Homo sapiens: one gene and its partners. The protein of the gene in region 1 purifies or fractionates together with the protein of each later gene. This does not show direct contact. Each region holds a gene or a part of one and is shown in the gene's direction. Other genes may lie near its edges.

Evidence for each region.
Region 2: the proteins of GNL3 (region 1) and RPL4 purify together in Homo sapiens (affinity purification with mass spectrometry; 2 studies listed by BioGRID and IntAct, with this or other methods). This does not show direct contact.
Region 3: the proteins of GNL3 (region 1) and NOP56 purify together in Homo sapiens (affinity purification with mass spectrometry; 4 studies listed by BioGRID and IntAct, with this or other methods). This does not show direct contact.

Annotation. Positions count from the first base shown.
Region 1 is NC_000003.12:52,688,830-52,692,045, forward strand, and holds part of GNL3 (guanine nucleotide-binding protein-like 3), read left to right. Parts: intron 1-57; exon of another isoform or gene 58-204; intron 205-244; coding exon 245-377; intron 378-410; exon of another isoform or gene 411-486; intron 487-1,762; coding exon 1,763-1,875; intron 1,876-1,908; exon of another isoform or gene 1,909-2,001; intron 2,002-2,115; coding exon 2,116-2,242; intron 2,243-2,548; exon of another isoform or gene 2,549-2,615; intron 2,616-2,712; coding exon 2,713-2,800; intron 2,801-3,216. UniProt on the Homo sapiens protein: May be required to maintain the proliferative capacity of stem cells. Stabilizes MDM2 by preventing its ubiquitination, and hence proteasomal degradation.
Region 2 is NC_000015.10:66,497,515-66,499,685, reverse strand, and holds the end of RPL4 (large ribosomal subunit protein uL4), read left to right. Parts: intron 1-33; coding exon 34-279; 3' UTR 280-1,671; downstream 1,672-2,171. Other genes in the region: SNAPC5 (snRNA-activating protein complex subunit 5), read left to right, coding at 1,955-2,044. UniProt on the Homo sapiens protein: Component of the large ribosomal subunit. The ribosome is a large ribonucleoprotein complex responsible for the synthesis of proteins in the cell.
Region 3 is NC_000020.11:2,655,632-2,659,126, forward strand, and holds the end of NOP56 (nucleolar protein 56), read left to right. Parts: coding exon 1-115; intron 116-302; coding exon 303-403; exon of another isoform or gene 404-583; intron 584-769; coding exon 770-918; intron 919-992; exon of another isoform or gene 993-1,063; intron 1,064-1,142; coding exon 1,143-1,264; intron 1,265-1,307; exon of another isoform or gene 1,308-1,379; intron 1,380-1,449; coding exon 1,450-1,587; intron 1,588-1,741; exon of another isoform or gene 1,742-1,857; intron 1,858-2,297; coding exon 2,298-2,663; 3' UTR 2,664-2,762; downstream 2,763-3,495. Other genes in the region: IDH3B (isocitrate dehydrogenase [NAD] subunit beta, mitochondrial isoform e precursor), read right to left, coding at 2,878-2,891, 3,128-3,206. UniProt on the Homo sapiens protein: Involved in the early to middle stages of 60S ribosomal subunit biogenesis. Required for the biogenesis of box C/D snoRNAs such U3, U8 and U14 snoRNAs. Part of the small subunit (SSU) processome, first precursor of the small eukaryotic ribosomal subunit.

The DNA of each region.
Region 1 (3,216 bases):
TTTTTGAAATCCATCTTGATCAGAGACTGCTGAGCAAGCCTATGTTTTACTTTCCTGTGTGAGAAATGATGAGGGTCAACATTCTTCATACCAAAGTGAAGACATGAGATCCAACTCTGAGCTCACCCTGTTGCTAAATGGATAATGCCAGTACTCTCTTGTGGAAGGTATTACCAGAACAAGGGATGTAGTTCTGATCATTTTCTCCTTGATAATGTAGTTCTGGTCATTTTTTCCTTGATAGGTGATTGAAGCCTCCGATGTTGTCCTAGAGGTGTTGGATGCCAGAGATCCTCTTGGTTGCAGATGTCCTCAGGTAGAAGAGGCCATTGTCCAGAGTGGACAGAAAAAGCTGGTACTTATATTAAATAAATCAGGTGAGTAAAGAGGGTACCCTTTGTCTTCTGTGTACATGGGTGAGGTACGAGGAAACAGTCTGATAGTCACTGAAGACTGATTAGATCCAACTCTGATCTCAGCAAAGCCAGAGTACGTGCACTTTGCCAGAGACAGTGCTAGGCAGTGGGGAGCCAGGTGACTTTTACAACTGACTCAACTGGTTTCTACTATTCTTTTGCCATTCAGTATTTACCATCTTTTAAATAAAGAGTGTAAGCTGCTATACCCAGCTTATTGTGTAGTATATTTCATCTAGGAAGTGATGACAGTGTGACAAATTCCCCACACCTACACAATGTCGGGTATTAGTTCAAGAGTGAAATAAATTGGAACGTATGTGACAAAATATTTAAATGAAATGCATAATTATGCATCTGAGTTTGAGCAGCAGGAAAAAGAAAACCCAGAACAGAGAATTACAAAGCAGAAAATGGGAATGAGATCTAAAATTGTTGTTGGGGTTAAGAAACAATTGGCTGCTTGGGAGGCTGAAGTGGGCACATCACTTGAGGCCAGGAGTTCGAGAAAAGCCTGGCCAACACGGCGAAACCCCATCTCTACTAAAATACAAATATTAGCCGGGCATGATGATGGGCACTTGTAGTCCCAGCTACTCGGAAGGCTGAGGCAGGAGAATTGCTTGAACCCGGGAGGCGGAGGTTGCAGTGAGCCGATACTGTGCCACTGCACTCCAGCCTGGGCAACAACACTTCGTCTCAAAAATGAAGAAACAATTGGCTGCTAGCTAAAGGTAAATTCTGGAAACATAGCTCTAGGGTTAGTAGGGTTGTAATCCAGACGTTGAGTCTGTCCTGAAGTTTTCAAGTGAGCAATACAAGGGGAATTGAAATAGAGAAGTGCAGATGCTGAGCTCTGTTAAGATACGGGCAGTATGGTAGGGGAGCTTACCCTGCCCTGATTTTCTAGTTAAATCCTTTTGAAAGGACTGGGAAAATGTAAACCAGAGTAAAATCTATAGTTGCCAGATTTTGCAAATGCATCTCAACAAAATAGCCACATTGGAGCAAATGTCTTTTTCTTTTTTTCTTTTTGAGATGGAGGCTTGCTGTGTCACCCAGGCTGGAGTGCAGTGGCGCCATCTCAGCTCACTGCAAGCTCCACCTCCCGGGTTCACGCCGTTCTCCTGCCTCAGCCTCCCGAGTAGCTGGGACTACAGGTGCCCACCACCACGCCCAGCTAATTTTTTTGTATTTTTAGTAGAGACGGGGTTTTATCGTGTTAGCCAGGATGGTCTTGATCTCCTGAACTCGTGATCCGCCTGTCTCGGCCTCCCAAAGTGCTGGGATTACAGGCGTGAGCCACCGTGCCTGGCCGCAAATGTCTTATTTCTAATTGCTATCAGATCTGGTACCAAAGGAGAATTTGGAGAGCTGGCTAAATTATTTGAAGAAAGAATTGCCAACAGTGGTGTTCAGAGCCTCAACAAAACCAAAGGATAAAGGGAAGATAACCAAGGTATCCTTTATTAGTGGTAAGAAATGTGATTCTTTCAGATTTTGGTTGAAATATGATGAGTGTACAAAATCTTGATTTAAGTGAATGAAAAATTACAAGATCCAACTCTGATTTCAGCCAGAGATCATCTGAAAGGCAATGTAGTTATCTTAAGAGCTGGGCTCTGGAGCCTGATTGCTTGGGGTTTGTTGAAATTTATCAGGTAAGTTGCCAGAATAATTCAACTATTTGGAATTTTAGCGTGTGAAGGCAAAGAAGAATGCTGCTCCATTCAGAAGTGAAGTCTGCTTTGGGAAAGAGGGCCTTTGGAAACTTCTTGGAGGTTTTCAGGAAACTTGCAGCAAAGCCATTCGGGTTGGAGTAATTGGTGAGTTTCAGTTCATTACTTTTTACTTTTTAAGTGTTGAAATAGTTAAGAAGTTTAGCCAGCTCTCCAAGTGCCCAAGCAGCAGTGTATGGAGTTGTTGTCAAGTAAAAGGCTCACTCAAATACTAGCTTCTTGCTTATACCTTACTGAAAGCACATAACCACACACAATTTAAAGAAAAAAACTTACACAACTGCTGCCAGATTCAGGTTTTTTGTTGGGACTGATTACTGTAGGAAGCTGGTTTCTAAAAGTTCTTGGTTTGTTTGAATTTATAGTATTTTCCTGCCTTTGCATTACTTGTGCAAGAAATGAAGAAACTAAAATTGGTCTTAGTATTGAAGTGAAGACACTGAGATCCAACTCTGATCTTGCCCTAAACATCAGGGAAATGGAAAATTAGGCAGTGAAAATTTCATAAGTGCCAACATATAATGCTTTTTATATCTGGATTTCCCATTTATTTGTAGGTTTCCCAAATGTGGGGAAAAGCAGCATTATCAATAGCTTAAAACAAGAACAGATGTGTAATGTTGGTGTATCCATGGGGCTTACAAGGTAAATGGAGGTGTCCATAATTGTAATATTATAGTGACACACTATTTTATTTTGGTTATCTCAAGGAAGGTGATTTTTTTTTTTTTTTTTTTTGAGACAGTTTCACTCTTGTTCCCAGGCTGGAGGGCAATGGCGCAATCTCGGCTCACTGCAACCTCCACCTCTCAGGTTCAAGTGATTCTCCTGCCTCAGCCTCCAGAGTAGCTGGGATTACAGGCATGTGCCCCCACGCCCGGCTAATTTTGTATTTTTAATAGAGACGGGTTTCTCCATGTTGGTTAGGCTGGTCTCAAACTCCTGACTTCAGCTGATCTGCCCGCCTCGGCCTCCCAAAGTGCTGGGGTTACAGGCCAAGCCACCGCGCCCGGCCTATTTTTATTTTTTAAAGCTTTTGGTGAAAGCAGAGATTTAAGCCA
Region 2 (2,171 bases), on another chromosome or scaffold:
GATTCTTACTGTTTTCTGCCTAATTTGTTGCAGCACAAGCTCCGGGTGGATAAGGCAGCTGCTGCAGCAGCGGCACTACAAGCCAAATCAGATGAGAAGGCGGCGGTTGCAGGCAAGAAGCCTGTGGTAGGTAAGAAAGGAAAGAAGGCTGCTGTTGGTGTTAAGAAGCAGAAGAAGCCTCTGGTGGGAAAAAAGGCAGCAGCTACCAAGAAACCAGCCCCTGAAAAGAAGCCTGCAGAGAAGAAACCTACTACAGAGGAGAAGAAGCCTGCTGCATAAACTCTTAAATTTGATTATTCCATAAAGGTCAAATCATTTTGGACAGCTTCTTTTGAATAAAGACCTGATTATACAGGCAGTGAGAAACATGACTTGGTGTGCTCTGTAAAGCTTGGTTAGAATTTTTTTAAAGTGACATTTTGTTGGCCATAATTTAGACTGTTACATTTTATATAGTGTGGTATAAAATGGGGCATGGATTTATACTAAGTCCATGGAGTTCAGTGGAAGGGGAATGATTTAAAAAAAGTTGTGGTTTTCTAAATAATGTGGCTTGAAAAATAGGTGTAACAGGACTTGGTCAGAAACGCAGAGGCTGTTCAAGTTTAGCTCCCCACCAGATGGAAAATAGGTTAAATTCTGTAAAGATTTAACTTTAACCACAAGAGGGCACAACTGGAGAGCACAATTTTTTTGGTACTGCAGTAAAATTGATTACCTCTTGAGAAGTGTTCTTTTTAACCAGCTATAACAATAGAGTTGAGTATTTTCACCCATGGTTTGAAAAAGTGCCAGAAGGCCACACTGGCCCACATCTGTAATCCCAACACTTTGGGACCCTAAGGTGGGCAGAGCACTTGAGCCAATGAGTTCAAGACCAGCCTGGTCAACATGATGAAATCTCGTCTCTACTGAAAATATAAAAAATAGCCAGTCATGGTGCATGCCTGTAACCCCAGCTACTTGGAGGCTGAGGCAAGAGAATCACTTGAACCTGGGAGGTGGAGGTTGCAATGAGCCAAGATTGTACCATTGCCCTCCAGCCTGGGCGTCAGAGCAAGACTCTCTGAAAAGTACCAGAAGCATTTTTCAGGACTGCCTGTGTGTCTTGGTGATTATGTTAACCAACTGTGTTCAAAAGAAGTACCCATGAAATGCCTCCAGATATAAGGGTGTTTTTTTTTACCCATAAAGCTAAACTGCAAATATTACCCTAGAATTAACCTCTTGTCCTGTGTCAAAAGTCTTGTTTTGCATCTGGATTGTTAAACTGTCAGCTTCTCTCTGACAGTCTCGAACTGTCAAGACAGTCTCAGTTCACAGCCAAGGTGATCTGTTAACCCTCCCCATTTCCAGGGCCAAATCTCAGTTCTTAAGCACGTCGTTTCTTAGCACGGCTTTATTTTCATGCTCTTTATTTCTCTATTTTGTGCAGCCTTACCCCTTTAAAGTCCACTGTGAGTCCTACCCTGCAGGGCCTCTTAACACAGTAGAGTTCATGTGCTACTGATTTGGTGCCTGCCTTCAAACACATGTGCAAGTTTTGTGGGGTTAAAGATAGCCACTTGGTGGCACACCACATTGGAAGTGCTGTTCACCCGGTCATTTGAAACGGTGTTTGACCACTTGGTGCGCAAATGGCCTATCGGATTAAAGGATAGCCAAACCCAAGATTTCTTCAGGTTCTTTACAGCTCCATGGATCTAATTTCAAAATCCTGATCATTACTCATGAATCAAGGTGTTTTGACACAGGCTGTACCCCTTCCTGCAGCTCGTCCCCCGCGGAGTGGCCAGGCTACGGCGGGCGCCGGAAGGGGGCGCACTCCTCGCCTTTCCTCAATGTGTCGGGCAGCCCCGCCTCCCCGCTCGGTTTCCGGGAGTCGGCGGCGATGGCGTCATCACCGAGTGCCGGGCCGACAGCAGCCCGGAGGTTGGCTATGTGACCAGGCAACATGCTGAGCCGGCTTCAGGAACTGCGCAAGGAGGAGGAGACGCTGCTGCGGTTGAAGGCAGCCCTGCACGACCAGCTGAACCGCCTCAAGGTGACCCCGCGGCCCTCTCCTGCCCCTCCTCCATTCCTCCCGAGCGACCATTTCCCCCCAACCTGGGCCTCTGTGGTGACCACCTGCTGCGGCCAGTTCTCCGCTACTCACTAGCTGTGGTGGCGCC
Region 3 (3,495 bases), on another chromosome or scaffold:
GAGCTTCTCCAGTCGTGTGGTGTCTTTATCTGAATACCGCCAGAGCCTACACACTTACCTGCGCTCCAAGATGAGCCAAGTAGCCCCCAGCCTGTCAGCCCTAATTGGGGAAGCGGTGCGTCACAGGGGACTCAAAAATGGGAGAATAAGGACTGTTGCCATGTGCACCTGCACTGCTGTATTTCGTGACCCACCATGTCTTCCCTAGTTGTGCTTGATGGGGAGGTGGGGAGCAGGGCTGTCGTGCAACTGGGCAGGTCAGCAGTTCATTTCTCTGACTGCTTCCTTGACTCTCTCTCCAGGTAGGTGCACGTCTCATCGCACATGCTGGCAGCCTCACCAACCTGGCCAAGTATCCAGCATCCACAGTGCAGATCCTTGGGGCTGAAAAGGCCCTGTTCAGGTACCAGTGAGGGCACCTGCCCACAATCAGGTGCCACTTCTGGTGCCCACTGCTTGTTGGGGGATCACGGTGATGGCTGACCAGGGCTCCCTGACCTATACAGGCCTCTGCTATGGGGGTGATGGCCAGTCCTGGTGTCTGAGTGATTCCCAGGGCCCAGCAAAGGGACCAAGTTTCCAGGTCAGCGACATTGGATGCCTTCCCTCTGCCTCTGGGAGCTATGGGTTGGCATGCATTGGGGTAGAGATCCAATCTGGCCTGAGGCTCACTCAGGACTTCGGGGTGAGAGGAGGGGAGGAGCTGAGCTGCCTTGGCTAATGGGGTTGAAATTTCTGATCTTAAACTCTCCACTGAATATTCTCTCAGAGCCCTGAAGACAAGGGGTAACACTCCAAAATATGGACTCATTTTCCACTCCACCTTCATTGGCCGAGCAGCTGCCAAGAACAAAGGCCGCATCTCCCGATACCTGGCAAACAAATGCAGTATTGCCTCACGAATCGATTGCTTCTCTGGTATGGGTGGGGGGGCGTTGGCAGGTGTGAGAAGGGGCTGGGTGGCTGGGTGGGGAGGCTTGCAACCATAGCTTCCACAATGATGGCAATATTTTTCGTCAACAGCAGTTCACCTAGTGAGTGTTGAGACTCTGGGTCTGAGTGAAGCTGAGGGTAGAGGGAACACAGGGTTGGGGTAGTTTCTCTCTTTGGGCTGACAGGCTTTGTCACCCACACACATCCAGAGGTGCCCACGAGTGTATTCGGGGAGAAGCTTCGAGAACAAGTTGAAGAGCGACTGTCCTTCTATGAGACTGGAGAGATACCACGAAAGAATCTGGATGTCATGAAGGAAGCAATGGTTCAGGTCAGTTGGGCTTTGCTGGGTGTGGAGTGGCATAGCTAGCTGTTGGAGGTGATGAACTGTCTGAGCCTGACCTTGTAGAATGGAGGCAAAAAAACTGATTTAATGAGCCTGATCCAATAAAGCCAGAAAGGAGTCCTCAGAGCACCAGAAGTCTTCAGGCCCTTTTAGCACTTTTCTTTGACCAGGCAGAGGAAGCGGCTGCTGAGATTACTAGGAAGCTGGAGAAACAGGAGAAGAAACGCTTAAAGAAGGAAAAGAAACGGCTGGCTGCACTTGCCCTCGCGTCTTCAGAAAACAGCAGTAGTACTCCAGAGGAGTGTGAGGTCAGTAGGCAGCACGGCCCTGGCAGAGATCCTAGGTTGTAGGATTTTCAACAGCAGAACAAAGGATATGCTGCATCAAGCTGTGGTCTTGAGTCCAGGCTTTTGGACTGAAACAAGGACCTGAAACATCTAAAACTACCTCTTGATTCTATAGGAAGGAGATAGGTGCTGAACTTGCTCAAGAGCCCAGAGAGCTGGTTGTAGCTCACACCCGTTCCCTGGGCATGTGTGTTCTGTCCTCGGCTGCCTCCCAGGAGTCCTCAACCTGGGGTAGTGTAAATTCCTGCTCTGCTTATTATCAGACGTGTGTCCGGAGGTGGTCGTGTTTCACAGTGGGGATGGGGGCAGGGAGGTCCCCAATGTGCTAAGCTACAATCATTCTCCCTGAGATTTTCATTTAGCACCCAGTTTCTTAAACAGTGTTTCAGGGCCCTGTCTGGAACTTGGCATGATGGTTCTGTTGCGACCAGCATGGTGGGTGTTTTTTAGGTTTTTTTTTTTAATGGGCTGAGGTAATTTCTCATGACATGTTTTCCTTCTAATTTGGGACAGCCTTTGGGGTGGATTTCTAAAGTTATACCCACACAATTAAACTATCCCAGAAACACTGGGCAATGTTAACGACACGCGTTCCCCTGCCTTGGCTACTTAATTGCTGAAGATGTAATGAGCACTGTTCTCACAGCCTGTTCCCCTGTCCTTCCCTTTAGGAGATGAGTGAAAAACCCAAAAAGAAGAAAAAGCAAAAGCCCCAGGAGGTTCCTCAGGAGAATGGAATGGAAGACCCATCTATCTCTTTCTCCAAACCCAAGAAAAAGAAATCTTTTTCCAAGGAGGAGTTGATGAGTAGCGATCTTGAAGAGACCGCTGGCAGCACCAGTATTCCCAAGAGGAAGAAGTCTACACCCAAGGAGGAAACAGTTAATGACCCTGAGGAGGCAGGCCACAGAAGTGGCTCCAAGAAAAAGAGGAAATTCTCCAAAGAGGAGCCGGTCAGCAGTGGGCCTGAAGAGGCGGTTGGCAAGAGCAGCTCCAAGAAGAAGAAAAAGTTCCATAAAGCATCCCAGGAAGATTAGAATGCAAATGGACATTCTCTGGGAGGTGGGGCATACCATAGCCCAAGGTGACATTTCCCACCCTGTGCCGTGTTCCCCAATAAAAACAAATTCACAAGAGTTGGTTCATGTTCTTTATTGAACACCTTACATGGGTATGGACAGGGCCTATGGGTGGGGCAAGGCAGCAATGACAGCCTCAGTGAAGTCATGGCAAGTAGCATAGCCACCCATGTCAGAGGTTCGAACCTGTGGGGGAGAATCATCATCATCCATGTGGCCTGGGCTCCATCCTAACAATCCCCATCACCACCCAACAGTCTGTCCCCTAAGGAAGCCGGCCCAAGGACAACCTAGGCTCTACCCAGCAAGGTGACCATGGTCCACTGCTTAGAGGCACAAGGTCTCTTCCCTGGTACACTGCACTGAAGGGTATGGGGAGTGTGGTCCTTGCAAGGTTGGAAGAAATAAAGGGCTCTAGCTCCCTTTAGTCTGCAGGTGACCGATGACAGACTTGATGAAGTCGGTTGTGGTGCTGTAGCCGCCCATGTCTCGAGTCCGCACCTACAGCCACCACCGGCAACAGCCGTGGGGAGGGAGAAAAGAGAGCCCATGAAGGGAGGTAGGGCAATGTGATTGAGGAAATGGAAGCCAAGAATGCGTGACAGCCAGAAAAAAGGCAATGCACAGGAATGGAAGGAGGAGCCAGGATGGGAAGCACATGGACCTGCCACTCCTCTTAAGCCACTATTAGCTGTGCTGCAGCCAGGGCAGGACAGGAGGCTGAGCAGGCAAAGATGATGGGAAACGCAGATCAGAGGCAGGATGTGGCTACCTTCCTTGGAAGAAATAG